4 linked regions of the Homo sapiens genome follow. The protein of the gene in region 1 interacts with the protein of each later gene in a biochemical or structural test. Each region holds a gene or a part of one and is shown in the gene's direction. Other genes may lie near its edges.

Region 1 (7,000 bases):
TCCTCAGGGCGGTCTCTTCCCTATTCCCCAGGGCTCACCCTCCTGAGCCCTACTTTTCTCCCCTTCCCTTTTTCCTTTCGGTCCTTGGACAGACGCTGTCCCTGGTGCTGAACCGTTTGTGCTTTGCCTAGAATTTGAAACACAATCCATGGTACCGCCCACGGGGTTCTCAGAAGAGGAAGGTAAGGCATTGGAGGAAGAAGAGAAATATGAAGATGAAGAAGAGAAAGAGGAGGAAGAAGAAGAGGAGGAGGTGGAGGATGAGGCTCTGTGGGCATGGCCCAGCGAGCTCAGCAGCCCGGGCCCTGAGGCCTCTCTCCCCACTGAGCCAGCAGCCCAGGAGGAGTCACTCTCCCAGGCGCCAGCAAGGGCAGTCCTGCAGCCTGGTGCATCACCACTTCCTGATGGAGAGTCAGAAGCTTCCAGGCCTCCAAGGGTCCATGGACCACCTACTGAGACTCTGCCCACTCCCAGGGAGAGGAACCTAGCATCCCCATCACCTTCCACTCTGGTTGAGGCAAGAGAGGTGGGGGAGGCAACTGGTGGTCCTGAGCTATCTGGGGTCCCTCGAGGAGAGAGCGAGGAGACAGGAAGCTCCGAGGGTGCCCCTTCCCTGCTTCCAGCCACACGGGCCCCTGAGGGTACCAGGGAGCTGGAGGCCCCCTCTGAAGATAATTCTGGAAGAACTGCCCCAGCAGGGACCTCAGTGCAGGCCCAGCCAGTGCTGCCCACTGACAGCGCCAGCCGAGGTGGAGTGGCCGTGGTCCCCGCATCAGGTAATTCTGCCCAAGGCTCAACTGCCCTCTCTATCCTACTCCTTTTCTTCCCCCTGCAGCTCTGGGTCACCTGACCTGTAGTCCTTTAACCCACCATCATCCCAAACTCTCCTGTCCTTTGCCTTCATTCTCTTACCCACCTCTACCTATGGGTCTCCAATCTCGGATATCCACCTTGTGGGTATCTCAGCTCTCCGCGTCTTTACCCTGTGATCCCAGCCCCGCCACTGACCATCTGTGACCCTTCCCTGCCATTGGGCCCTCCACCTGTGGCTCACATCTCGCCAGCCCCACAGAGCATCCTCAGGCCTCTCCAAGGGTCCTCATCACCTATTGCAGCCTTCAGGGCTCGGCCTATTTTCCACTACTCCCTTCATCCGCCTGTGTGCCGTCCCCTTTAGCTGCCTCCTATTGATCTCAGGGAAGCCTGGGAGTCCCTTCTCACCCCTCAACCTCCGGAGTCCAGGAGAACCCGTACCCCCACAGAGCCTTAAGCAACTACTTCTGTGAAGTATTTTTTGACTGTTTCATGGAAAACAAGCCTTGGAAATAAATCTCTATTAAACCGCTTTGTAACCAAGCTCTGGTACCCTCTGTCTCCATCTCCTGCTGTCCACCTCTCTCATTCCATGGGTCTGTGTCATGGGGAGCACTTGGATGCTTCTTCTCTGGCTCCATGTCTCTCCCTGTCTCTGTGTGTGTCTTGGCCTCTCTTCCTTTTTCATTTTCGGCTTCTCCCCTTGTCTGTCCTGGCAGTCTAACAGCCCCTCATTGTTCCCCCAGCCTCTCCTTCTCAGGCCTGTCTACACTTTCCTTCCTGGCTGCTAAGATCCCAAAATTTGACTGTACACATTACCCCTGGAGAAGTCATCATCCATAGTCTGAGGCAGTGCTGGGAGTTGTAGTCCCTCACTCCTGATGAGGAGAAACCCCTGCAGCCCGGAGTGCATGTGTTGTGCATTTATATTCACTTCCAATCCATCTTGGTGGTGCCAAGGGTCATAGTAACTGAGGGAACTGAGGGTCTCTCAGCATAGAGGCAGTTCCCTGGCATTCAGTTGCCCTCACCCCCATCCCCTAGCCCTGCATCTCAGCAGGGGGTGGTATCTAACTCTCATCCCACTACCTACAACTTCCGTCTTCTCCACTAACTCCTGCACTAATGATCATTCCCTACTCTCCAGAAGGAATGGCTTCACCCTCCCCAGACCCAAAGGGTCTCAAAGTACCTAATGCTGGAGAAGACACTGATCAAAAGCAAGTGATGGAGAGTGTGAAGGAAGGAATCAGGTTCTGGGGTCTGAGAGAAGCCCTCTCTACTCAGGAAGGCTAAGATTCCCAGTGGAGGTTCCTGGAGAAGGCTGGGATTCCCTTAGCCCTAGGACCCCCATGTTAGATGGATCACATCCTGAGTCCCACCCAGGCTTACCCATGTCAACTGTTAGGTCCCTGCACAACTGGCCTTGGAGTTCAGCCCTGTGGGGGATAGGGAGGGGGTTTGGTGGGAAGAGGAGCACAATTGGAGGTATCTACAGTGTCTTAGTTTCCCCACCGGGAGGGTAAGTGAGAGGTCTCCTTGGCTGCTGTTTCAATGGAAAGAAAGGGAAAACTTTCTGGTTGTGTAGAATAGTTGTCCCCAAAAAGGGAGAGGGAAAATGACAAGAAGAAGAGTTCTTCACCCGACTCTGCCTGCGCTGGGTTCAGGTTCTGTAGCCCACAGCCAGGGGGAGGGGCCTATGGCTTGGGTAGGGGACCAAAGACCAAGTTTGAGAGCCTCTGTCCCCCAGGGTTGGAGGGTTGAATGGGAAGGAGCAGAAAGGACAACAGGAGGGACAGGAAAGTGTGAGGAGTGGGAGGGGAGTTCAGAATTCTACCCTCTGTGGGGCCTGGTGCTTAATGGGTTAAATGAAATACCTCTTCCTCTGGGGTTGGGAGGTGGGCAGCACCACAAGCTGGGAAGAAACTATTGGCAGGAGGGAAGATGACAGAAGGAGTGCTGCTGGAAAAGCTGATTCATTTCACCCAAAACAGCTAGGTCATCCCAGCAAAATTCTTTGAATCCACTCCAGCTTCTCCTCTCTCCACCCCTACTGATTCCCACCAGGCAGTGGGACCTGTGGCCAGGCCAGCGGGAAGCACTGTGGACCTTGGCCATGGCTTCTAGAGGTGGATGGTAAAGTCTGAAGGGTTCTGCCCTGGAGTGGTTTTGCCTCTCATGGCTGAGGGCCTTGACCTTACCATGGCTGAGGGCCATGACCTACACAGTTGGTCTGTGGAGCCATCTTCCTTTGGGTCATCTGAACCAGAAAGGATTGGAAACTGACAGCTCCTGTAGCACCCAAGCACATCCTAAGGACAGCCACCTCCTACCCCAGGATACAGAGAGAAAAAGTCCAGTAAAGCAGATGGCCTAGCCAGATGGAGCTAGATCCAGGCAACAGATTGCAGACCTTCAGGGCAGTGTGTTAGTCTAAGAGGACTGCCTGGAGGAGAGGGAGCCAGAAGGAGGGATTGAGATGGATTCTAGGTTGGAGAACCTGCAGAAGGCCCAAAGTGGAGTTGGGAGAGGGAGCCTGGTAAGTGGAAGAGTCTGTGGATATAAGAAGGGGAAGTGAGAGGTTGGGTGATATTGAGAGAAAGCTGCATGTGTGAGGCCAGTCAGCACTGCAGGACAATGGGAGCTGCTGCGACTTAGTTCCTAAGCTGGGGGAGAAGGGGCAGGGCCTAGAGTGAGGAAAGTGGGCTGGATCTCCACTAACCACTTCTGGGACTGGCTGACTGCCCAGTGGACAGCAGGAGGAATGGTTAGTATTCACCTGGACCACACCAATATCAGGTCTCAGGAGCAGTCAAGGGATACCACCCTCCACTGTTGCTGCGGTAATCCTTCTGTCCCCTCCTTCACTTCCATTCATTCCACCTGGACTATACAGAACTGTGCTGGGACCTGGCACAAAGACAAGGGGGTGTGGCACTAAACTCCAAGCCTAGAGAAGGAAAATGACCTGCCCAATATCACACAGAAGCCAGATAAGAGTTTAGAGCTATAACTTTCTGTGCCCAGTATCTTTCTCCATTGTGGGGCTGGGTTCTCAGGGCTCTCCTAGCCTCTTCTCCCCAGCCCCTTTTGGGCTGGGCTCACACTGGTGGCCATAACAATGGAAGGCTGAGCCAATGCTGAAGTCGGGAGCGGGAAGAGGAAAGAAACCCAGAACTCAGGGCTGGGTTGTGACCAGAGACAGGCTCTAGGGAGAACTTTTAGGGTGCTGTTATAGCTTCCAGGACAGAGAGACCAGGGCTGGGGGACCCTCTGCACCCTCTCCTGGAGGGCTCAGGCTGCAGAGTGCGGCTGCCTCGCTCCCCCCGCCTCACTTCTTTCCCCCTCTCAGGTGACTGTGTCCCCAGCCCCTGCCACAATGGTGGGACATGCTTGGAGGAGGAGGAAGGGGTCCGCTGCCTATGTCTGCCTGGCTATGGGGGGGACCTGTGCGATGTTGGTGAGTGTTGAGGGACGGGGGGCAGGTTTGAAGCCTGGACCCTGCCACAACGTGCTACTTCTGGAGGGGGGAGGGAGAACATTGGTTTTGGCCTTGTCATTAATGAGTCCCTGTTTTAGGCAAGTTGCATAACTTCTTTGAGTCCTACCCTCAATTTTCTTATCTAAGTGAAACCACAATGCCTCTCATAGGGGGTCCATTTGAGACCAGTGCAAAGCATACTCCTGGCATTTAATCGGTGGTCAATACATGACAGGCTCCATTCTCCTGGAGAGGAGAGCCACTGCTCGTTAGGATGGAGACCCAGGCCGGAACTCCATCCCTCACCCTGGTTCCTGTCTCTTAGAAAAGGCACCAGCGCCCCTGCCCAAGAGCCCCTCCAGGCTCCTGCTACCCCCTCATTCTCTACTAGCTCTTTTGCACCGCCCTCCTGTCCCCCTTAGTCCCGCCCCTCTCGGCCTGCGGTAGTGGAAGGAGACCAGCCCCTTCCAGGGGACCTGGCCCTCTGGGTTTTGGGGCCCTAAGATGCCCGCCCTTATGTGCCGCAGGCCTCCGCTTCTGCAACCCCGGCTGGGACGCCTTCCAGGGCGCCTGCTACAAGCACTTTTCCACACGAAGGAGCTGGGAGGAGGCAGAGACCCAGTGCCGGATGTACGGCGCGCATCTGGCCAGCATCAGCACACCCGAGGAACAGGACTTCATCAACAGTGGGCTGGGAGACAGGGCGGGAGGGGCCCCTGCCATATGCTCTCACTCTCTCTCACTCGCCTAACCGCCTTCCTCATTAACCCATGCACTTATTCCTTGGTTTTCTCAAGCGTGCATTCCCTCACTCATTCGTTCACTCCCCTTCTCATTCTCTCTCCCTTCCCACCCTACGCTTAGGCAGTGGCCTTCGGGAACGGAGAGTGGAGGTTCGCGCAGTAGAGTGCGCCTGTGTGGGCCGGGCCGCCGTGCAGGGGGCCGCCTCCAATCCCTCCAACCTCCCTGCTCTCCGACCTCCGTCGGCCTCCTCCAACTCCAACTCCAATCTTGTTGAAAGTTTTGACTCTTTTTCCAAAACTCCCCTTTTCTAGCCTGGGTTGATATCTTCCTTATTCTCCCACCCCCATTCCCCTGCTTTCCATCTGGCCCTTGAGCAGAGGCTGGGGTAGAAGAACCCGACAAGGGCGGGTGCTGGATCGCGGGGAAGGGTTTCCAAGGCAGTCACCGCAGACCGCCCGGGAGCGGGGAACGGCCGCCATCTGCTGGCGGCTGCGCTCACTGCACGCCTTCGTCTCCCTAGACCGGTACCGGGAGTACCAGTGGATCGGACTCAACGACAGGACCATCGAAGGCGACTTCTTGTGGTCGGATGGCGTCCCCCTGGTGAGAGGCCCCAGTCGAACCCCGCCGTCTAGCTCACTTCCTCTAAGCACTTCTGTTCCCTACCACCCCCACCCCTCCCGACCCTGTCCCCTTCTTTTTCCGGCCTCCTTCCCTTTCTCGTGCCCTGTGCCTCTTCTCCCTGGGCTCTCCTCCCTTCGTTGTGTCCTCTTTCTTCCCTTCTGGCTCCCATTCTCCCTCCCCTAAAGTCCCTGCCCTCTCCTTTCCCCTTCCCCGGGAGATCCCCTACCCCCTAGCCCTAACCTTCCCTCTCCTGGGGCCCCGCTCACCAGCCCTCCTCCCCAGATCCTCTAGGCCCTCTCCCGGTGCTCCTGGTGTAGGAGCTCCTCACCACCTCCTCCGTTCCCCCAGCTCTATGAGAACTGGAACCCTGGGCAGCCTGACAGCTACTTCCTGTCTGGAGAGAACTGCGTGGTCATGGTGTGGCATGATCAGGGACAATGGAGTGACGTGCCCTGCAACTACCACCTGTCCTACACCTGCAAGATGGGGCTGGGTGAGGGCAGGCAAAGGAGGGTCCCAGCAAGGAAGTGGAGGGGTGGGCTAGGGGACCAGAGGGACTGATGTTTGTAGACAGAGAGTGCAAAGCAACATAGAGGAGTCAGAACGTGTTCCAGACCATGGGAGAGCTAACAAGTTACGTGGGTCCACTCGGAATCCCTGATCTTTTTTTGTCATGTTGTGGCCCATTTTTCTCTTCCCCATGGAGATTCTGGGAACTGTCACCCACAGAGCCAGGCTCAGTTCCTAACTGTCTTCCTTTGCAGTGTCCTGTGGGCCGCCACCGGAGCTGCCCCTGGCTCAAGTGTTCGGCCGCCCACGGCTGCGCTATGAGGTGGACACTGTGCTTCGCTACCGGTGCCGGGAAGGACTGGCCCAGCGCAATCTGCCGCTGATCCGATGCCAAGAGAACGGTCGTTGGGAGGCCCCCCAGATCTCCTGTGTGCCCAGAAGACCTGTGAGTGCCAGGAAGAGGCAGGTGGGAGTGGGAGACAGTAGCCAACAGTAGCCTTGGACTCCACTTAAAGTCCTGCCTGTCACTGGCCATGTGACCTTGGAGCCATCACTGCCCCTCTCTGAGGCAAAGGGGAAGAGGTGGGCTGGAGGCTCTGGGGTTCCTTCAGTGCTGATGTCTGATAACATGCAGCCCCATTCTGGGCTCTTACGGGCTGAGCAAGAACATCAGAGGGCAGGCTCTGAGGAGAGGAGAAGGAAGAGCCAGGGTGGAGGGTGAGTGTGTGTCTTCCCCAGGCCCGAGCTCTGCACCCAGAGGAGGACCCAGAAGGACGTCAGGGGAGGCTACTGGGACGCTGGAAGGCGCTGTTGATCCCCCCTTCCAGC
Region 2 (7,468 bases), on another chromosome or scaffold:
CAGAGCTGGCAGTGAGCTGAAATTGCGCCACTGCGCTCCAGCCTGGGAGACAGAGTGAGACTCTGTCTCAAAAAAAAAAAAAAAAAAAGAATGAGAGATAAAGAACAGTGTCAAGACATAAAAGAAAAAAAGCTGGGGAAGAACCAAGGTCCAAGCCAAGAGGTTGTTTTAAAACTTTTGTTATTACTATTATTTTAAATATATTTGGGGGGTACAAGTGCAGTTTTGTCACATGGATATATTGCATAGTGTTGAAGTCTGAGCTTTTAGTGTAACTCTCACTGGAACAGAAGACATTGTGCCCCCATTAGATAATTTCTCATCCCTCTTTTCCCTCCCACCCTCTTGAGTGCCCAGTGTCTATTATTCCACACAGTATATCCATGTGTACACATTATTTAGCTCCCACTTGTAAATCAGAACATGCAGTATTTGACTTTCTGTTTCTAAGTTATTTCACATAACGTAATGACCTCCACTTCCATCCATGTTACTGCTAAAGACATTACGTCATTCTTTTTATGGCTGCATAGTATTCCAAACAGTATGAGGATTTCTCAAAGACCAAAAAAATAGAACTACCATTCAACCCAGCAATCCCACTACTGGATATCCACCCAAAGGAAAAGAAATCATTATGTCAAAAAGATACCTGTACTTGTATGTTAATCGCAGCACTATTCACAATAGCAAAGATATGGAATGAAGCCAAGAAGTTTTTGATAAACATCCAAGTTGTAGTCATGAAGGTTTCTTCTGGCAGTTCTGAATAATCTCTTCCCACTTGTTAGCTTTTGATCGTGAGCTTATTATTCAATTTTTCTAATCTCAACTTTGTTGGGTTGTTCTGAAGTTTAAAAATAACTCACATTTAAGAACTGACTACAGTGGAAGCTCAATACCAGGCGTTTCACCTTTCTTTAAGTATGAGCTCTGTATGCTTCCTTGCCTGACCCTATACATACTTCAGTAGGTTTAACAAGTAATGAATTATATAAAGACAAACATAGGACTCACCTGCTCCAGGGCATTAATTTCTACCAGGTGTCATGGTTTAATGCAGGACAAGTTTAAACACTAACATCATTTCTGTGAGGCATGTGCTACCCTATAGGCTCCCAATTATAGTCGTAGCTATTACTACAATGTAAACTTTCATTGTATCATTACCACATAATAAAATCCATTAACAGGATGTGTCAACACTAATAAAGTTATGACTCAAGCGAAAATGGGCATCTCACAGCTTGTCAAATCAGGGCCTAGGGGCATTGTCACAGATTTGTCAGGCCAACAAGCTTTGTCTGTTAAAGGTGTTGGAGTGAAATAAGAAGAGATTTGTTCCCCAGCATAAAGCATACAAAATAACTTTGTGAGTGTGGTTATATCCACCCCATTTTACAGATGACAAAATAATGGCCTGAATTAATTACACACAGTCATGTGTGACTTAACAATGGGGACACATTCTAAGAAACATGTCCTTAGGCAATTTATCCATTGTGCAAACACCATGGATTAAACTTACACAAACCTCTATGGTACAGCCTACTACATGCCTAGACTATGTGGTATAGCCTTTTAAAAATTTCTTGGGGAAAGTTATCCTCCCATCTCAGCCTTCCAAGTAGCTGAGAGTAGAGGTGTCAGCCACCATGCCCAGCAAGCCTATTACTCCTAGGCTACAAACCTATACAGCATGAAATTCTACTGAATACTGGAGGCAATTGTAACATAATAATAAATATTACTGTATCTACACATATTTTAACATTAAAAAATACAATAAAAAGATGGTATTAAAGATAAAAAATGGTACAACTATATAGGGCACTAACCAGGAATGAAGCTTGCCAGACTGGAAGTTGCTCTAAGTGAGTCAGTGAGTGAGTGGTGAGTGAATCTGTACACTATGTAGACTTTATGAACATTGTATGCCTAGACTACACTAAATTTATAAAAGCATTTTTCTTTCATCAATATAAATTAACCTTAGCTTACTGTAGTAACTTTTTTACTTTATAAACTTTTTAATTTAAAACTTTTTTTGACTCTTTTGTAATAACACTTAGGTTAAACACAAACGTTTCACAGAGGTACAAAAATATTTTTTTCTTGATATCCTTATCCTATAAGCTTTCTACTATCTTTAATTTTTTTTATTTTTTAAACTATTTTTTGAGAATGAAGACACAAAACACGAATTAGCCCAGGCCTACACAGGATCAGGATCATCAATATCACTGTTTTCTACCTTCACATCAAGTTCCACTAGAAGGTCTTTCAGGGCAGTAACGCTGATGCAGCTGTCGTTTCCTATGATAATAATGCCTGCATAGGGCAGTAACCATGGAATGCCTTCTGAAGGACCTGCCTGAAGCAGTTTTACAGTTAACTTTTAAAAAAAAGGTACACTCTAAAATAAATGATAAAATGTATAGTAAATGCATAAACAGTCATTTATCACTATTATCAAGAATTATGTACTGTACACAATTGCATGTGCTAGACTTTCGTATGGCAGCACAGTAGGTTTGCTTACACCAGCATCATCACAAACACATGGGTAATGTATTGTACTATGACATTATGTTGGCTACAATGACAATAGCTGATGGGTGCTTATCAGCTCTGTATTAGTTTGTTCTTGCATTGCTATCAAAAATACCTGAGACTGGGTAACTTATAAAGAAAAGAGATTTAATTGGTTCACGGTTCTGCAGGCTATATGAGAACCATGGTGGCACCTTCTTCTGGGGAGGCCTCAGGAAACTTACAATCATGGCGGAAGGCAAAAGAGGAGCCTGCACTTTACATGGCCAGAGCAGGAGAAGAAAGAGAGGGGCTAGGTGCTACACACTTTTAAACATCCAGATCTCATGATAACTCACTCACTCACTATGACAAGAACATCACCGATGGGATGGTGCTAAATGGGCATGAGAAATCCGCCCCCGTGATCCAATCACCTCCCACCAGGCTTCACCTCCAACACTGGGAATGACAGTTCGACATGAGATTTGGGCAGGGACACAGATCCAAACCATATCAAGCTCCATTATAATCATATGGGACCACCATCATATATGTGGTCCATTGTTGACTGAAACATTATACAGTGCCTGACTGTACTTGCTCAATGTCCAGCTGACTTTATTTGAGTCTAGTTGTCAGTCCTTCTCCCTCTGATATTCAAGCTGATGTCACCACACTGTAGAGCAAACTCTTTGGCAACAGTAAGTCACAAGTTGACTTGGCTGGCTCAGTGTATATCCCAGTTTCTCTCCAACTCTGGCTTGGAAGTCTCAGAGCCTCTTGGTTCCTGGAAGTCTCACCTGTCCAGGCTACCTTAAGTAGGGTGGGGATGGTGGGCGATACTGAAAAGATCATTCCTACACACTTATTATTTTAATCTCTCATCACTTTGCAATTATGTACTTCAGACATGGTAGAGTTAATTTATCTTTAGTGAGAGAAAAATATAGTTCTTTACTATAAGAATTTCAGGGTTCTTTATATTAACAGGTTAATTTGACAAAACAGTTATTGCAGACTTACTGTGTTACTGCGTAAAAAGCACTTTATTTGGCTGAGAAAACAAGAAAGAAAATACTATTTGTGGGCAGGGGTGGATCGTTAGACATGTGAAAGAAAGGGAGGATTTGAAATCATTTCCCATTACAGATCTCAATCCATCTCCTCCTTTGTACCTTAAGAGGAGAAAGAAAGGGGGAAAAGAATTTTTAAAAGCAAAGAAGAGGAAGAGGGTAGGAGGACCATTTCAGTCTAACATGCAATTTAATTTTTTCCATTTAACAAGTTTTATGGAGCAGTTACTTTGAACATAATTATACACTGGGAAATGGAGAATGAGTGAACACCAAAGCTTCTCTCTTTGGATTCTTTTCTCTACATGCTCCATGTCCTTCTCACAATACCCCTACTCCACGGCCAGTAAATCCATCTGAAAATCAATAATAGCTATTGTAAACAAGGACTCAAGAAGTGAAATATTTGTTTTAATATCTTTGTAAATAACAACTCCCACATTTAGACCACGACTATATTTGGAATTTATTTCCGTTGACCTACTTAATTCTTACCTGCTTATATTTAAGTTTAAAACATAATCTTCTTAAAAGAAAATTGCACTGATTTTAAAATGTCAAAACATTTGGCATTTTACCAAGCTTGTCAGCTCTCTTTAAGTAAATACAGAGACGTGAATTATCTAGCCAATTCTTTTTCGTCTTTACAAACACAGAAATCATTTCCTGGGGATTAATCATTCTTTCAAGTTTAGAAAGTTGAAGGAAAATACTGATGTAGGCTGTATCACCATTACATTAAATGTTTGTGAACATTCAGACTTAAAAAACACATGCATGAATCATACTGTTGGTGATCTCAGCATTGTCTCTGTATAAAAGAAAGGCCACTAGGGGGTAGAGCTAGAAGCCCAGTAGACAAAGAAGGTAAGGGCAGTGAGAATGATGCATCTTGCATTCCTTGTGCTGTTGTGTCTGCCAGTCTGCTCTGCCTATCCTCTGAGTGGGGCAGCAAAAGAGGAGGACTCCAACAAGGATCTTGCCCAGGTAATTAACGGTGGCATCTATTGCAGCTACTGGCCAGCTCAATTGTGTCTACTTGGTCTTCCAATACAAAGCAGAATGATTAGACTAGAGATCACTTTGTTAGAAAACTGTAGCATCAGAGAATAATTAACAGGCTGGAGGTGGAAATTATTTTTATGTTAACAGAGAAGAAAAGAAAGGTTCAGAAAGGGAATATAACTGCTCAAGGTTACAATAAAATAGTAGCAGTATATTTGTGGCTAAGTGAAAAGAACATATGGAGAATATATGAAACTCCTCTGGCTTTAGAATTTATTTAGTTAAAATTATTGGGGAGGGGAGCATGCTAAGTTTGATCTTTAAATCATATCAGGTAATAGTTTTCATATTTTTACTTGTCATATTTGGACAAAAGAGTTTACCACACTTCAGTCTTAAACCAGGTCTATAATAACAATGTAAGTAGAAAAGGTTAGTATTCTAACTTTTCACAAAACTATGTTAAAAGAGGGTTTCTTTAAAAACTAACAAAAATAATGCTAGACTTGAATTTTCAATCCCCAATTCCTTACTTGACTAGCAAACTAACATTGCAATAAAATTTAAAAATTTGTATGAAATGGGGAGTCTTAATGAAAAATCAAATTAAATGTGATAGCCTCTTTTGTTTTAAGAAACTAGAGGAAAATTACGATGGATTATAAAAGTTGGATAAATGATGGAAAATCACAAAAATGCCCTAAAAATTCTATTTTCCATTAGCAATACCTAGAAAAGTACTACAACCTCGAAAAGGATGTGAAACAGTTTAGAAGAAAGGACAGTAATCTCATTGTTAAAAAAATCCAAGGAATGCAGAAGTTCCTTGGGTTGGAGGTGACAGGGAAGCTAGACACTGACACTCTGGAGGTGATGCGCAAGCCCAGGTGTGGAGTTCCTGACGTTGGTCACTTCAGCTCCTTTCCTGGCATGCCGAAGTGGAGGAAAACCCACCTTACATACAGGTAATGGTTCAGATTAGTTTTCACATAATATTGAAACCTTATAAGTTACTCGTCATATTTGGATAAGTAACATAAAGTTTTCTTTAACAATTTTTCATAAAGGCAGGAGAAAATAACATCCTCTTCAATTTTTCTCCTCCAGGATTGTGAATTATACACCAGATTTGCCAAGAGATGCTGTTGATTCTGCCATTGAGAAAGCTCTGAAAGTCTGGGAAGAGGTGACTCCACTCACATTCTCCAGGCTGTATGAAGGAGAGGCTGATATAATGATCTCTTTTGCAGTTAAAGGTAATCAAATAAAGCATCCATTTATCTGGTGTATTCATCTGTTCAGACTGCTATAGCAAGTTACCTTAGACTGGGTAATTTATAAACAACAGAAATTTATTGCTCACAATTCTGGAGGCTGGGAAGTCCAAGATTAAGGTGCCAGCAGATTTAGTGTCTGATGAGAGCCTATTCCTCATAGATGGTACCTTCTGTGTCCTCACACGATAGAAAGGGCCAGGAGGTTCCCTCAAGCTTCTTTCATAAAAGCACTAATCTCATTCATGAGGGCAGAGCACTTACGACATAATCACTTCCTAAAGACCTAACCTCTTAATACTATATTTCATTGGGCATTGAGTTTCAACATATGAATTTGCAGCAGACACCAACATTCAGACTATAGAATCTACTGTTGTTTAATTGGAACAGGGTAAAAAGAAATTCTGAACACTTATATTTCCATTAATTTGTTCCCTATCAGAACATGGAGACTTTTACTCTTTTGATGGCCCAGGACACAGTTTGGCTCATGCCTACCCACCTGGACCTGGGCTTTATGGAGATATTCACTTTGATGATGATGAAAAATGGACAGAAGATGCATCAGGTGGGTCGTAAACCTCTCGGGAACATTTCAGGAATAATGTCCAATCCTACCCAAAAATAATTGGATTATCTAGAACGAGCAATAAATCGAATATACTAGTAACTGAATTTTTTTATTACCTGAGTTTTAAACAGAAGTACTGTTTGTTTCAATCATTATTGAAGAATTTTATAAAATGTCTGTATTTTCATGTTTGCCCCCACCAAGTACAATATTGTAAAAACCATTCAACCTCATCTCCACAACTCAGGATCTTGTGGGGGTTTGAGGATCAGCATAATTAATAATGTTTTTCATCACTTTAATGATAGATGATTAGGATAGAATGAATTCCATTAAACCAGTTCCAATCCTAACATTTGCCCTCAGGTTTTCTTTCTTTCTTCTCATTGGCCTCCTTTTTACTTAAAAGTAGAGATCAGGAGAAAATGCCAGGAACTGAAAAAAAACTGTTAGGTCATCTTTTCGAATAAACATGTCACTGTCTCTAGCTTAGATGGGTTTTTTTCGCCCTAAATTGGCTTGGAAACACTTTACATCTAAACATAATGACTAAAATTAACTGTATGCTATTTAATTTTTAAAATGGCTTCTGAAGTTTAGAAACACACTGTTGAAATAATCACTATTTCTGACAGTGCCTGGGATTTTTAATGTAAATGCAAAGAACATCTTTCCTGAGTACAAGACTCAGGAGGCTGAGGCACGAGAATCACTGAACCCAGGAGATGGAGGCTGCAGTGAGCCGAGATTGTACCACTGTACTCCAGCCTGGGCAACAGAGTGAGACTCTGTCTCACGAGACTGAAGTTTGTGTTGCATGAAATGATTGCCTTTTATTTGAACAACTGTTCTTTTCTGCACAATTCTTGGAGCCTTGGTTAAATAATATCTACTACTAAATTCAATAAAACCCTTTTTATAATATTTTTAAAAAGCTGAATCTAGCTGTGTTTGTGCTGCAGAAAACTGTTATTGGGCATGTTTCTGTTTTAAACTAAAGATTGTAC
Region 3 (7,794 bases), on another chromosome or scaffold:
TGGAATATTATGTAGCCATTAAAAAAGAGTGAAATTCTGATAAATGCTACTACAACATGAGTAAATCTTGAAAACATTGTGCTAAGTGAAATAATCCATACACAAAAGGACAACTATTGTATGTTGACATTTATAGGATGTACCTGGAATAGTCAGATTGATAGAGACAGAGCAGAGTAGAGATTACTAGTCTGGAGGGAGAGGGGAGAAGAGAGCTATTCGTTAATGGATACAGAGTTTCTCTTTGGGATGGCAAAATAGCTCTCGAAATGGATATTGGTGATAATTATATAACGTTGTAAATGTACTTAATGAAACTCAATTGTACACTTAAAATGGTTAAAGTGGTAAATTTTATATGATGTATATTTTACCAGTTAAGAAAACATAGTTTCCTTCCTTAAAAATAAGTCACTCATAACCTATGGACCAGATCACTCTCATTAGCTCCAGACCCAATTTCCAGCTGAAACCTTGAACCCGATGTCCAGGATGTCCATGATGTCTTTACTTTCCCACGACCACATCTGTTTCCCTCACAAAATCAACTCCTAGTTTCTTTTCCTATAAGCCATGTTTCCATATTAACAGCTTGACCACCCACCAAGTCTATTAGGCTCAGATCATCCTTGATTTTCTTCTCATTCCTGCAGCCAATCATCTCCCCAGTTTTGGTTTTGTTTTGTTTTGTTTTTATCAATCCTACCTTCTACATACGTCTTGGATTTCCTTCCTCTTTTTCATCACTATGGTCACAATCTTAGTTTAGGGACTCATCTTCCCCCTGTCTCACCTGGATTATTGTCATAACTTTTTGCTTGGTCTATCTGCCTCTCCAGTATCCCTCTAGAGGGCATCATCTCATCTTCCACAATCTGTCTTTACAACCACCAGTAGCATTTTCTTACAGCATTTCAAATCTCATCATGCTGCTTTCTTCCTTTAAAACATTCCCTGATGCCCTTGGGATAAAGTCCAAACTCCCTGGCACACGAGGCTCGCTCTCAACAACTTGACCCCCACCTGCTTTTCCAACCACTCACCATCCCGGACCACAGCCACATTGACTGCTCGCTCTACTGTATCCATGCTCTTTTCCCATGTCTTCTTCCTGGAATGCCCTTTTCCAAGGGAACTCCTATTTACCCTCCAAAATCCAGCCAAAATGCCACCTCTTGTATGGATTACTCCTCAGTTCCCACAAGAAGGATTAACTGTTCCCTTCTCTTTGGTAGCTTTGCATATTATAAGCGAGTGTCATTTTGTTTTAAAAGTATTTACCTCCCGATATTGCCACCCTAGAGCACGAGCTTCTAAAGGCTGGAACTGGGACTTGATTCCACTGGGTCTTTTTTCCTAATTACAATTTAGATGAACAAGAGATTTCTTTCTCCTTATTCAAGAGTGAATATTGAAGGAAGTCACTAAAATTAATTTAAAGTGTTTGTAATTTCTAATGCTCTTTGAATTGCTAAAAGTAAACAGAAATGTAAAATACAAAATCTAGAAAATACCTTTTTTAAGACTTTATTTTTTTAAAGCAGTTTTAAGTTCACAGCAAAATTGAAAGGAAAGTACGGAGATGTCCCATATACCTCCTGCCCCCACACATGCATAGCCTCCCCCATTATCAACATCCCTCACCAGAGAGGTACATTTGTTTCTGTGTGTGTGTGTATTTTTTTTGTTTTGTTTTGTTTTTTTGAGACAGAGTCTCACTGTATTGCCCAGGCTAGAGTGCAGTGGCGTGATCTCGGCTCACTCCAATCTCCACCTCCTGGGTTCAGGTGATTCTCCTGCCTCAGCCTCCTGAGCAGCTGGGATTACACGCACCTGCCACAACACCTGGATGATTTTTGTACTTTTAGTAGAGACAGGGTTTCACCATGTTGGCCAGACTGGCCTCAAACTCCTGACCTCAGGTGATCCGCCTGCCCCGGCCTCCCAAAGTGCAGGGATTACAGGCGTGAGCCACCGTGCCCAGCCTATATTTGTTACAATTGATGAACCTACACTGACACATCATAATCACCCAAAGTCCATTGCATTTGTGTTCACTCTTGATGTTGTACATTCTATGTGTTTGGACAAATGCAAAATGACATGAATCCACCATTACAGTATTGTACAGAGTAGATGCACTGCCCCAGAAATTCTCTGTGCTTTGCCTATTCATCCTGCCTATCCCACGTCCAGCCCACACAACTACTGATATTTTTACCTATTTTTGCCTTTTCCAGAATGTTACATAGTTCGAATCATACACTAAGTAGCCCCGCAGATTGCTTCTTTCACTTAATAACATGCATTTAAGATTCTTCCATGTTTATTCATGGTTTCACAGCTCATTTCTTTTTAGCACTGAATAATATTTCATTGCCTGGATGTCCCGCAGTACATGTATTCATTCACCTACTGAACGACATCTTGGTTGTTTCCAAGTTTGGGCAATTATGGATAAAGCTACTATAAACATCTATATGTATGTTTTTGTGTAAACATTTATTTTTATCTCCTTTAGGTAAACACCAAGGAGCACCATTGCTGAATCATATTGTAAAAGTATGTTTCATTTTGAAAGAAACCATCAAACTGTCTTCCAAGGTGGCTGTACCATTTTTCATTTCCACTAAAACATCCTGCAATTGCCACTGTCAGCGTTCTGGATTTTGGCCTTTCTAATTGGTAAGTAGTGGTATCTCATTACTGTTTTGATTTGCATTTCCCCAATGACATATGATGTGAAGAATATTTTCATATGCTTATTCACTATCTGTATATCTTTTTTGGTAAGATGACTGTTAAGGTTTTTGGCCCATCTTTAAAATCAGATTGTTTGTGTTTTTATTGTTGAGTTTTAAAAGATACTTGTATATTTTGGATAACAGTCCTTTATTGGATATGTCTTTTTTTTTTTTTTTTTTTTTTTGAGAGAGAGAGAGAGTCTCCCTCTGTCACCCAGGCTGGAGTGCAGTGGAGTGATCTCAGCTCACTGCAACCTCTGCCTCTGAGGTTCAAGCAGTTCTCGTGCCTCAGCCTCCTGAGTAGCTAGGACTACAGGCACGCATCACCATGTTTGGCTAATTGTTGTATTTTTATTAGAAACAGGGTTTTGCCATGTTTCCCAGGCTTGTCTCAAACTCCTGACCTCAGGCAATCCACTGGCCTCAGCTTTCCAAAGTCCTAGGATTACAGGCGTGAGCCACCGCGCCTGGCCATGGATGTGTCTTTGCATTCATTTTCACCCAATTTGTGGCTTGTGTGCTCATTCACTTGAGGAAATGCCTTTTGATTTTAATTCAATGCAAATATTACCAAAAACGTGATATAATTCCATTTTTAGCTTATTCAAGTAAAGTTCATAAATATTCATTATTCTACAAATATTTATGGTGCACCTTATCACATGTCAAACTCTGACTAAGGATACCAATTACTCTAGTTAAACTGTGACCGTACAGAATCAAGACATCTCTGTAAAGAGAGCAAATTTAATTAACTGATCTGAAAATTTTACCTTTGCTGGCTCACAGTGCTCAATTACCATGTAATTGAAGTGATATGTGATTAATTAAATTTTTTAGCTCCAGCATATTTGGAGTGTTTCCCATGATGTATTAGAGTCAAAAGCCATGGTGTTCTCCCAAGTAATGTATAATATAATAAAAGAGACAGACCTATTACAAAATGAATAGGCAGTGCAGTGGGATAGAAAAAGCACTGAGCTACTATCTGTGTGAGCTGGGAGAAGTATAATAAGTTAAATTATCATCTTGGCCTCACTTTCATTTTTGGTAAGAATGGAGTCATTGGGCTAGAATCTGTAGGTAATGGATTCTTACTGCTATACGTAGAATAACCATTTTGTGTACTAAGGACCAATGCAGCCCTACCTGTAGCTGGGCAGCAGCCAGAGTCAGAGTGATTGGAAGAAAAAAATTGGATCTCCAAGTTGAAGGTCTAGCCTTGGAAGAATCTGTTACTATAAAATGAGAAGCAGAATAAGTAAGCCAGATGAAGAGTTAAACCCGTGCTTGTAGATTTTTGTTGGCTTGGTATTTTTTTGTGTTTAATTCAAGAAGAATTAGAGGCAGTGTTCCCCATTAAGAAAAGACATAAACTGATTAAAAGGAGACCCAAAGAAGGGAATTATCACTGCTCTGCTAAGGGACGTGGAAGGTGAGGGGACACAGCACAGTTGTATATAGAGTGGCCACTAATCCAGCCACACAGCAGCATTTCCATCTGCCTCCTGCCATCTTTCCCCTGTATGGAGAACCACAGGATTTTGGTGATGTTCTATTTCTTGACTTTGGTGACGGTTACAGTATTTGCTTAATTATTATTTCATTATTTACATGTTTTGTGCACTTTTCCAAACCTTTTAATTGTTAAGAATATATGGTACCATGTATTTAAGAATACATGGTACCATATAATAAGAATATATATTTAAGAATATATATTATTCTTTAAGAATATATGGTACCATAATGTCCTGAATGATACCTATGAGAGCAGTCATTTGACTTTGGCAAAAAAATGAGGTTTCTCATGGAGTCAATTTATGCAGCAGACAGAAAAAAAAATCCTTTGAAAGACAAATACATTGTGTGCTTCCTGCCAATAACGATGTAATACTTCCTCGTTTTAGTTAATGAAAAATAACACATACTTTCAAAGTTCTGTAGACTCTAAAAAGAAAGAAAACACTCAAATGAGTCACCTATTTCCACATTCGAGGCTGAGAAGCTATATAAATTTCTGCAGTCACTAGCAGAAAACACCAAATCAACCATAGGTCCAAGAACAATTGTCTCTGGACGGCAGCTATGCGACTCACCGTGCTGTGTGCTGTGTGCCTGCTGCCTGGCAGCCTGGCCCTGCCGCTGCCTCAGGAGGCGGGAGGCATGAGTGAGCTACAGTGGGAACAGGCTCAGGTATGTCACAGCCCACTTACTTAGGGTTCCATTCTTTTGCCATCTGCATTAAGAAATGTGTTTTTCAATTATTTCCCTTCCCATGTTAGCATTGCAGTGGAATTTTCTTTGGGGTGGTTCTTCGGATTATAAAAGCAATATATGTTTTCATCAAGTAGCCATTAAAAGCAGGTTTCAGAATCTGCTCAAATCGGGCTTGAGTTCCAACCCTCCACTCACTATGTAGATAGACTCAGGAAGGTCATCAAACTTCTCTAAGCTTCAGGTTTCCAATTTGGAAGTTGGAGATAAGAATGGTATCAACCAAATGAGGGTGTTGTGAAGCATTCAACACAATACCTGAAACATTGTTTAAATTAAGTTCTTATTTTTATTTATTATAACTTGAGATTCTTTTTCTATAGTATACAGAATATTGCCTCTTAAGATACAACCTGTAAATATACTGTTTGTGTATTTACAATACTGTTTGTAATGGAGATATCTGAAGTCAGAAAACATGGGTAGAAATTACAACTCTCCAACAAGTCAATGACAATAGACAAGGCATTAACATCTGACTTTGTTTTCTCATGTGTCCAGTAGAAAAAATAATATTATGTGTTTTATACCTCATGGGGTATTCTAGTAAGTAAATGAGGTGATAACAAAACCAACTAGCATGTATGTAACAATTGTAGATTATAAAGTACTTATATAGACATTGTGTCATTTAATCCTTAGTTCTATAAAAAGAGGAAACCAAAGTTAAACTGATTAGTGTACTTATTAGTGGTAGAGATAGAAATCAAGGACAAGTGCTTCTGGTTCAAAAATCATGTTCCTTGCAATATGCTTCTTAATAAGCAGTCTAATAAATATAAGCAGTCTACTAATTATTATTTGGTTAACTAATGGGATGATTACTTATAACTATTATTTGTAAATTTAGGCCTTAAGCATAAGAAAAGTCAATTTTTAATTCACATTAACTTAGACTTTTAAAAAGTTCCAGTTATAATAAGTTAGATTGAACCACATAAAGTTACTAGTATTTAACTTTTAAAATCTCCAAAACAGTAGTTTTATATGGTTCCACCTAATGAATTCTCCAGAAAGAGTACTCTGCGTTTAGTTTCTTTACTTAGAGTGAAGGTTGGCAGAAACTTAGTCTTCACTTGGAGGGATGTTAGCTAGGTTTAACAAAAAAACAGGAAAAGTCATCTCAACAAAGCAGAGAGATTTCTTCCAGAGGGTGTCTTGGTAAAGTCTGTAGCTCTAGAAGGGATTAAATGGGTTATTTGTTTTTAAATAAAGGATCAGTTATCAATTGTCATGGATGAACAATAAGTATTTGTTGTATTTAATGAGACAATTGTTGGTAACAGGAAAAAAAGACACAATATTAATAAGATTTCTTACATAAATTGCATATTCCTGGGCGGTCCTAAGACAGGTAACCATTACCATCTACTCCAAATAAACTGCAAATTAGTGAGCCAATGTTTAAATCATTTTAACAACAATATTATCAGGCATCATATAACCCTACACATGTTTCTAATGTATAGAAGTCAGAACACTTGAGTTCAAATACTGGTTCCTTCAGTTACTCACAAGGTGATCTTGTGCAATTTATTTCACTTCTCTGAGCTGTGTTTCTTCATGTATAAAATAGGGATAACAATGCCATACTTGTTTCATAGAGTGGTTATGAGGTTTACATAAAATAAATATGTAAGTGCCTGGCTCTAGTAAGTGCTTAAAAATGTTCCTGTGAGGTTGCTATTGTTGTTAGTTCATTCACTTTTGTTGTTGTTGTATTTGTGCTGCTGGATTCCTATCCTCATATTCAGATACTGAGAAACTTTAGAGAAATTCCCAGGAATCCAACCTTGCATGGAATAAACCTGGGAGTCCTACTGTATACTGCAATCTCCCAAAGTGGGTTTGACTAGAGATTTAACAGCAGAAAGAAGGGCTGGGAATGGAATGAGCAGAAAGAGGGAAAAGAGGACCTAGGAGTCAGGAAAGTCAAGTCCAGTTCTGCTACTAATTTAAGGTGTGAACCTGGGCACATAAATCATTTAGTTGCTATAAGCTTTGGTTCCTTCACCGGATTATTAAATTGAACTATTTAATAATTTCCTAATATCTTTTCCCAGAGCTAAAATTTTAAGACCCTTTAACTTTTAGCTGGAACCGCATCTCAGCTGGACTTTAGATAGGGCTGGTTGACCTCAGATCTCCCCCACAGGGTCTATGATAACACAGAGAATGTCCCAGTCGTACCCCTGAGGACAGACTGGTACATGCTTCCTGATTGCTCTTACACACTTCTAGGCTTTATAAAGTGTACAGTGTAATTCTCCCCAAAACATTTAAATGGATTTTTTAAAAATTGAGGGATTCTTTTCTTTTGCTCACGAAATGGCACGCCAGTGCTTCATTAGCAATATTAAATTTTCTCCTCACTAATGCACACTTATTTTTCTCTGTGACTATGTAATTATTCTGTCTTCAAATCATTATTTGAATTCACAGGAACCAAAGGCAAGAGATATATAGGCTTCTAAGATAAAAGAATATAATAAACAAGAACTATAGATTAATTACTCTCTTTTCAATAGGACTATCTCAAGAGATTTTATCTCTATGACTCAGAAACAAAAAATGCCAACAGTTTAGAAGCCAAACTCAAGGAGATGCAAAAATTCTTTGGCCTACCTATAACTGGAATGTTAAACTCCCGCGTCATAGAAATAATGCAGAAGCCCAGATGTGGAGTGCCAGATGTTGCAGAATACTCACTATTTCCAAATAGCCCAAAATGGACTTCCAAAGTGGTCACCTACAGGTTAGTTTTGCTCTGGCT
Region 4 (7,676 bases), on another chromosome or scaffold:
ATATTCAAAATTGTGGAAAATATAGATGAAATTTTATAAACTCCCATGATCAGCATGATGTGAAAAAGAATACACAGGTATAAAGAAATTAGAGGAAATACATAGTTAATACTGTTAGTAGTGTTTTTCTTTTTGGGTCATGACTATAAAAGATTTATTTTCTTCTTTGTACTTTTTTATATATTCTAAATTTTCTATAATAAACATTTAACGTTTTATTTAAGTATGTAAAATTTATTTAAAATGTTTTGTAGAAACTAGTGTATTAGTTTGTTTTCACACTGCTGATAAAGACATACCAGAGACTGGAAAGAAAAAGAGGTTTAATATGGACTTACAGTTTCACGTGGCTGGGAAAGCCTCACAATCATGGCAGAAGGTAAGGAGGAGCAAGTCATGTCTTACGTGGAAGGCAGCAGGCAAAAAAAGTGCTTGTGCAGGGAAACTACCATTTTTAAAACCATCAGATCTCATGAGACTCATTCACTATCATGAGAACAGCGCAGGGAAGACCCACCCCCATAATTCAATCACCTCCCACTGGGTTCTTCCCACGACATGTGGGAATTGTTGGAGTTACAATTCAAGATGAGATTTGGTTGGGGACACAGCCAGACCATATCACATGGCTTTCCACCAACAATGGAATAAGCTCTAAGCACCTTAGCTACAGACTAATGGTCTTCTATGACTGGACTCCAACCTATCTTTTCACAACTTTATTTTTTATTTTCCATTATTACCCTTCACATACCTTTTATTTCAATAAAAAGTAACTCTTTGACGTTTTCCATATAGAGTCTTTCTTGACTCTGCATACTTGTATACTCTGTTACTGAATTTTCCTCCATTTCCACCCTTGTTCTTAGCCAAAAGGCCAAGAAGCAATTTTCCTCCATTTCCAGATCATTCCAGGCTCACTTTATCTGCTACTTTATCTATGAGTTTTTTCTAAAGGAAACACCTAAAGTAAGCAAGCACCTTCTGCTTAATTCGTGTACAACTTTTTACTTTTTTTTTTTTTTGAGACAGGGTCTTGCTCTCTTGCCCAGGCTGGAGTGCAGTGGCACCATCACAGCTCACTTCCAGGGCTCAAGTGATCCTCCTGCCTCAGCTTCCCAAATAGCTGGGACTACAGGTGTGCACTGCCACAAGTGGCTAATTATTTTTATTTTTTCGTGGAGCTGAGGTCTCCCTATGTTGCCTAGGTGGGTCTTCAACTTCTGGGCTCAAGCAGTCCTCCTATCTCAGTCTCCCAAAGTGCTGAGGTTATAGGCAGGAGCCACCATACCAGGCTTATTTCTTATAGAATTAATTATATAGGGGATTCTTTCCTTGGCTAGGTTATATTCTCTCCTTCCCTCCTTCCCTCCCTCCCTCCCTCCTTCCCTCCCTCCCTCCCTCTTTTCCTTCCTTCCTTCCTTTCTTCCTTCCTTCCTTTCTTCCTTCCTCTACCTTCTTCCCTTCCTTCCTTCCTATACCTCCTTCCCTTCCTTCCTTTCTTCTTTCTTTCCTGCTTTTAAACAGCTAGTTTGTTCACTTTTTTTTTTTTACTAAAATTTTCTAAACTTTATCTCCAAATCTATACTCTTAGTTTGGGTATTCTGAAGCCCTTGAGACTCAGATACTTGATAAATGAATGTATAGCTGAAATAATGATTATATCAGTTATCAGCTAGAGGTAGCAAGGATCCTGCACAATCATGTCTGATTAGTCATGGAGAAGTGTGACAAATAGGAAGACAAATGTGAAAAGTTACGAGATAGAATGTTACCTGGGATCACTGCCAGTTTTTAAATCCAAGGATTAGATTGAATGTAAATTTAATTCTAAGCCGCTGATCCCTGGGAGGTCAGATTTATAAAACTAGCCATTATCTGACCCTTGTATTTATTTAACCATATAACAAATGATTGTTCTGTGGAACAGTCATTTTGATTTCTTGCTGGAAATGCCCACTTTTTTTCCGCTAGTATTCAGTTCCTCCCTCTACACCTGGAGTGTTTGCTCTCCTCCTCCCCTCTCCTCATCTTCCTCCCCCTTTCTCTTCTCCCTCCTTCTCCCTCCGTTCCTTCTTACACTCAGTTGCTCTTTAATTTTACCTATTCCTTCTCATTACTGCATTGATTTTTAAAACATACTCTACAAAATGCAATTTGACTGTCTCATGCACGGTTAGAAAACTTCTGGTTCTACAAGATTAGTTTGAGTGTTCTGCAGACATATGAATGAGGACTTCAATTATATATTAGAGAGATTTTAGATGATAGCTTGATCTTTTCTTGTGGAAATACAACTTCTAAAAAATTTAGTTTTTAGAGTATTTAGTATATATGACATGTAGAATCTGCAAATCTAGAAATGTCTGCATGATTTTTGGATTTTTTGACTTTTAATTTACCTGTTTGACATTTGCTATGAGCCTTTCACTCATAACTAATATATTATTTAGTTCTCTAAGTAATTTTTGGTTACCTACTATATATCAGATACCATGCTAAGTACTAGGAATACAGAATCAAATGAGGCATGGTCCATACCCTCAAGTAGCTTACATTAGAATGAGAGAGACAGATAAACCATTTCACTACAGTTCAGTGTGGAAAATAGAGTAGCAGAGGCAGGTACAAGGTACCATTGAACAATGATTAATGACTCTTCCTGGGACTTGGGAAACATCTTTCAGGGAAGTCGTCGAAGCTGTTTTAAAATATAGCAAACTTTTGTATTTAGTTCAGGAACAGCATGGCCCATTTTGCCAATCACATCTTAACAGTTGGAAAAGCAAACATATTATCTATCAGGCTTTCCTCTAAACTTTAAATATGTTTTATAAGTTATAACTCCAGAGAAAATTTACAAAGGATAAACCTTAATATAGAAGGAATTAGAGCTGCCACAGCTTCTACACTTTTAACCTCTCAATATTTTATCTGTTGGGCTCCACTGTTTCTTCCTGGAATTCACATCACTGCCACCACTCTGTTCTCCTTGTCCTCATATCAATGTGGCCAAATATTTTCCCTGTATTTCAATCAGGACAAGACATGGTTTTTCCCCCCATCAAAGGAATGGAGAACCATAGAATACTAGTTTTAAAATGTCTTTAGGCCAGGTGCCGTGACCCATGTCTGTAATCCTAGCACTTTGAGAGGTTGAGGCAGGAGAATCACTTGAGCCCAGAGCTCGAAACCAGCCTGGGCAACATAGTGAAACCTCTGTCTCTATTTTTTAAATAAAATTTGAAAAAGTCTTTAGACATAATCTAGTCTAAAAATGAAGGCTTAAATGTGATGTATAGCCCCCTGCCAAGTGGCTATCAACTGTGTGGGCATCTTCAGTCATAGGGATCTTATTGCCACAGAGAAATCCCTTTAAACTTATTGGGTAAAATCTCTCCAATGTTTATTAAGAAACACACAAAAAATAAAGCAAAGAAGAAAATGCAAAAGAGTTATAAATGAGAGGAAGCAAAATGGGCACTTATTAAAGGTCTAATAAATGCACATTTGTATCCATCATTCTACTGAGTTCTTACTCCCAAGATGTTCTTCCCTTTAGCAAACAAATAAGCAAGTCAGCAAAGAAAGAAAGAACAAACAAAATGTGGTGATCAGGGAAGCATTGAGGAGATGGATGGTGGCAGGTGGCAAGAGGACTATAAAAGTTTTACAAAATGTCTTCCTCTGAATATGTTTAGAGTCTTGCATTCAAGCATTTATTATACACCAATAATGTGAGCAACACTTTACTTGACAAAGAAACAGAAAAGAAAGGAAAGGAAGAAAACAGAAGAGCATGAAGAGAAAATTTAGGATGGATTCTGTTCTTCAACTTCAAAGCATCTGCTAATTTGAATTTAGGGAGGAGGGGAAAAGGTTGAAAGAGAATAAGACATGTGTAGAAGACAAGGACAGAGAGAATTTCAGTCCGGTAAGCAATGTAATTCATTTCAATTCTACAACTATTTATGGAGCAGCTACGTGGGCCCATCACCCATTAATAAATTGGTTACAGAATTAAAACCAACCCAAAGGGAATATACTTCCTTCTTTTTCACAGACCCTCTTTGTTCTATTCTGCCCATGAGGTTTTCCTCCTCAAGAACCAGCAAATCCAACGACAGTCAATAGCAGGCATTACAAATCAGATTCAGAAAAATAAATCACCCCTTCTAAATTTCTTCTAGATATTATCTTTTATGTTTTGAGTATAATTGTATATAGTATAGACTATAGCTATGTATGTACACTTTCCACTTACATCTTTTATTTGCTTTTATAATGTGTTTCTTAAAATAAAACTGCTTTTAGAAGTTCTGCACAATTCTGATTTTTACCAAGTCAACCTACTTCTTCTCTCAAAAGGACAAACATAAATTGTCTAGTGAATTCCAGTCAATTTTTCCAGAAGAAAAAAAATGCTCCAGTTTTCTCCTCTACCAAGACAGGAAGCACTTCCTGGAGATTAATCACTGTGTTGCCTTGCAAAATTGGGAAGGTTGAGAGAAATTAGTAAAGTAGGTTGTATCATCCTACTTTGAATTTGGAATGTTTGGAAATGGTCCTGCTGCCATTTGGATGAAAGCAAGGATGAGTCAAGCTGCGGGTGATCCAAACAAACACTGTCACTCTTTAAAAGCTGCGCTCCCGAGGTTGGACCTACAAGGAGGCAGGCAAGACAGCAAGGCATAGAGACAACATAGAGCTAAGTAAAGCCAGTGGAAATGAAGAGTCTTCCAATCCTACTGTTGCTGTGCGTGGCAGTTTGCTCAGCCTATCCATTGGATGGAGCTGCAAGGGGTGAGGACACCAGCATGAACCTTGTTCAGGTAATTAACACTAACTGACCTGGCCAGGTGGGGAGCTTCCAGAGTAAGCTGAAACCATTCTGTGTGTCTTAAAACCCACATAGAATGCTTGAGCTTACTGTGTAGGAACAGTTCAAGAATAGAGAGTTATAGAGTGTTGGAAGTGGAAAAGGTCTCATTATCACACCATTTGGGCTTCTCCTCTTATGTAGGAAGAAACAAAGGCCAGAAATATTAGGTGTTTTCTTAAGATCACACAACACCATAGCAGTAGCAGCACTGGGGCTTAAGGCACATGAGTAACAAGTGGAGAGTGGATGAACCATATCTTGCTTTGGAACAGCTTCAGTTTTTTTTTTAATGCAACGTAATTTTAGCTAAATATTTGTGTTGCTAGTATCATATTATAAAATTTGCCATTATTTCAGCAAGCTAGAGAAATACTCCAAATAGATTAAGAAGTGAGCAACTGCAAAAACTTACTATAAATAGATAGCTATAGTAAAAATTGTAAGAGTGACCTAAAAACTATACTTATTCTGTTAGAAATATCTAGAAAACTACTACGACCTCAAAAAAGATGTGAAACAGTTTGTTAGGAGAAAGGACAGTGGTCCTGTTGTTAAAAAAATCCGAGAAATGCAGAAGTTCCTTGGATTGGAGGTGACGGGGAAGCTGGACTCCGACACTCTGGAGGTGATGCGCAAGCCCAGGTGTGGAGTTCCTGATGTTGGTCACTTCAGAACCTTTCCTGGCATCCCGAAGTGGAGGAAAACCCACCTTACATACAGGTAATGGTTCAGAGGGGTTTTCACATAAGATTGGAATTTTATAAACTATATCATAGGAGAAAATAGCATCTGCTTCAATTTTTCTCCTACAGGATTGTGAATTATACACCAGATTTGCCAAAAGATGCTGTTGATTCTGCTGTTGAGAAAGCTCTGAAAGTCTGGGAAGAGGTGACTCCACTCACATTCTCCAGGCTGTATGAAGGAGAGGCTGATATAATGATCTCTTTTGCAGTTAGAGGTAAAAAAAAAAAAAAAAAAAAAAAAGCAAAACAAAACAAAACAAAAAACACATGAAATGTATCCATTCATCTATCTGGTGTTGTTGTACTGGAAAAGGCTCAAAAGGGATCCTTGTTACATATCTTTCCAATAAATTTTTTTCCTACTAGAACATGGAGACTTTTACCCTTTTGATGGACCTGGAAATGTTTTGGCCCATGCCTATGCCCCTGGGCCAGGGATTAATGGAGATGCCCACTTTGATGATGATGAACAATGGACAAAGGATACAACAGGTTAGTTACACATCTCTCAGAATGATTTTGGCATTAATTTTTTTATATGTAGAAATCTGTTAATAACCAAGAATGCTCAAGAAATGAGATGTTCTGGATTTTCCAGTGGATCAGAGATCAGCAGAATATATTTTTGTTTTAATTATTATTGAAAATATTTTCAGATGCTTTAACAGTTTTCCTATATTGGTAAGCACAATATAGGAAATATCATTAAGTATTTCTTTAATGACTGGATCTTTGTGATCTAGGGGTAACCATTATTAAGAAAAATTTCTCATATCAAAATACAAACATTCAAGGGATAGTATATTGCACTGAATCTACATTAAAATGTGCTCTGGATGTTACTTATGTAATTTCCTCCATTTACTTCTTTACTCTTCAAACCAGAAATAAGAATTAAATTTCAGAAACTGAGATTCTCTTTTTTTTTTTTTTCTGGCTGAGGCATTATTTTAGTACTTTTAGGTTAAAAGAATTTTTATGGGCTTGTTCTGAAGGAAAAGACTAACTCCCAAATACAACGTTCAAACTGTTTAGGTAGAAGAATGTTTCTCAGTTCATAACTGTATGTTTTGGGGAATGACATCCAAAGTTTTCAAAAAAATCAGCTAAAACAATTAACACTACTTCTAAAAAAATAGGAAAACAATTAATACTATGTCTGAGGTTTAACTGGGATTTATAATGAAAATGTAAACCTCTGTAGGACGTACAAATGTGAGTTTAGTCCTGGATAGAATTCTTGATTGGTTGAGTTAACGAATTCTTGTAAAGAAACCTTCCTGCAAACTCTCAAATGAGATTGTTCCTAGCATCACAAGTTACACAAGTAATACTAGCAAAAGTAAGGTAGATTTACTTACTATATTGATCATAATTACCCAATGCCTCCCAATTTTAGCATTATGGGTGTTTTTAAAAATATGAAGGAAAAAATTTTGAATAAAGCCAGTGTTTATGTATTCTAAATCTGTTGTGTGACAAATGCTAGACATGATTGGGCATACTGTGTTTTAAACCAATTTTGCAAATCCTATGACATCTATCATTATTCATGTTTTTAGTCTCAATATGTACTTCATGATGATGAGGCTGAGACATTATCAATTAACATGAATATAGTTTCCTTTAACTGAGACTGCAAATGGCAAATGTAAATATATTAAAACAGTGTTTAGCTTTGCATTGACAAATGAAGGTAAATATCTGATATGCTAAGCAAGTGGGTTCATTCCATTCCTGAGTACAAGAAAAGGGATCTGGTTCTTCTGGAGTTAATATGCTTGTGAGGCTGGGGGTGGGTTTGGGGCCATGGGGGGCAAGTGGATGTAACTGGGAAATCAATCTCAAAGATTGATTACAGGTATGAGTTTTAAAATACACTTAGCTTTCCATTAAGTGTGTAATTAGTCAATTGTTCAATTAACCAACAAACAAGGTGTAAAAAGCCCTGTGTGGTTCCAAGAAGTAAAAACCAATACAATGCACAGCAGACCTGTGTAATGCACATGTATTTAAAAAATAAGTAACTATTGTTCTCAATTTCTTAA

The links.
Region 2: of the proteins of BCAN (region 1) and MMP10, one has a biochemical effect on the other in vitro, tested with the Homo sapiens proteins (one study listed by BioGRID).
Region 3: of the proteins of BCAN (region 1) and MMP7, one has a biochemical effect on the other in vitro, tested with the Homo sapiens proteins (one study listed by BioGRID).
Region 4: of the proteins of BCAN (region 1) and MMP3, one has a biochemical effect on the other in vitro, tested with the Homo sapiens proteins (one study listed by BioGRID).

What each region holds. Positions count from the first base shown.
Region 1 is NC_000001.11:156,652,117-156,659,116, forward strand, and holds part of BCAN (brevican core protein isoform 1 precursor), read left to right. Parts: intron 1-131; coding exon 132-776; coding exon of another isoform or gene 777-850; exon of another isoform or gene 851-1,356; intron 1,357-4,165; coding exon 4,166-4,273; intron 4,274-4,821; coding exon 4,822-4,980; intron 4,981-5,558; coding exon 5,559-5,641; intron 5,642-6,010; coding exon 6,011-6,155; intron 6,156-6,426; coding exon 6,427-6,617; intron 6,618-6,910; coding exon 6,911-7,000. UniProt on the Homo sapiens protein: May play a role in the terminally differentiating and the adult nervous system during postnatal development. Could stabilize interactions between hyaluronan (HA) and brain proteoglycans.
Region 2 is NC_000011.10:102,777,614-102,785,081, reverse strand, and holds the start of MMP10 (stromelysin-2 preproprotein), read left to right. Parts: upstream 1-4,453; 5' UTR 4,454-4,490; coding exon 4,491-4,595; intron 4,596-5,336; coding exon 5,337-5,578; intron 5,579-5,720; coding exon 5,721-5,869; intron 5,870-6,332; coding exon 6,333-6,458; intron 6,459-7,468. UniProt on the Homo sapiens protein: Can degrade fibronectin, gelatins of type I, III, IV, and V; weakly collagens III, IV, and V. Activates procollagenase.
Region 3 is NC_000011.10:102,527,739-102,535,532, reverse strand, and holds the start of MMP7 (matrilysin preproprotein), read left to right. Parts: upstream 1-4,785; 5' UTR 4,786-4,832; coding exon 4,833-4,940; intron 4,941-7,549; coding exon 7,550-7,776; intron 7,777-7,794. UniProt on the Homo sapiens protein: Degrades casein, gelatins of types I, III, IV, and V, and fibronectin. Activates procollagenase.
Region 4 is NC_000011.10:102,840,598-102,848,273, reverse strand, and holds the start of MMP3 (stromelysin-1 preproprotein), read left to right. Parts: upstream 1-4,664; 5' UTR 4,665-4,727; coding exon 4,728-4,832; intron 4,833-5,357; coding exon 5,358-5,602; intron 5,603-5,694; coding exon 5,695-5,843; intron 5,844-5,994; coding exon 5,995-6,120; intron 6,121-7,676. UniProt on the Homo sapiens protein: Metalloproteinase with a rather broad substrate specificity that can degrade fibronectin, laminin, gelatins of type I, III, IV, and V; collagens III, IV, X, and IX, and cartilage proteoglycans.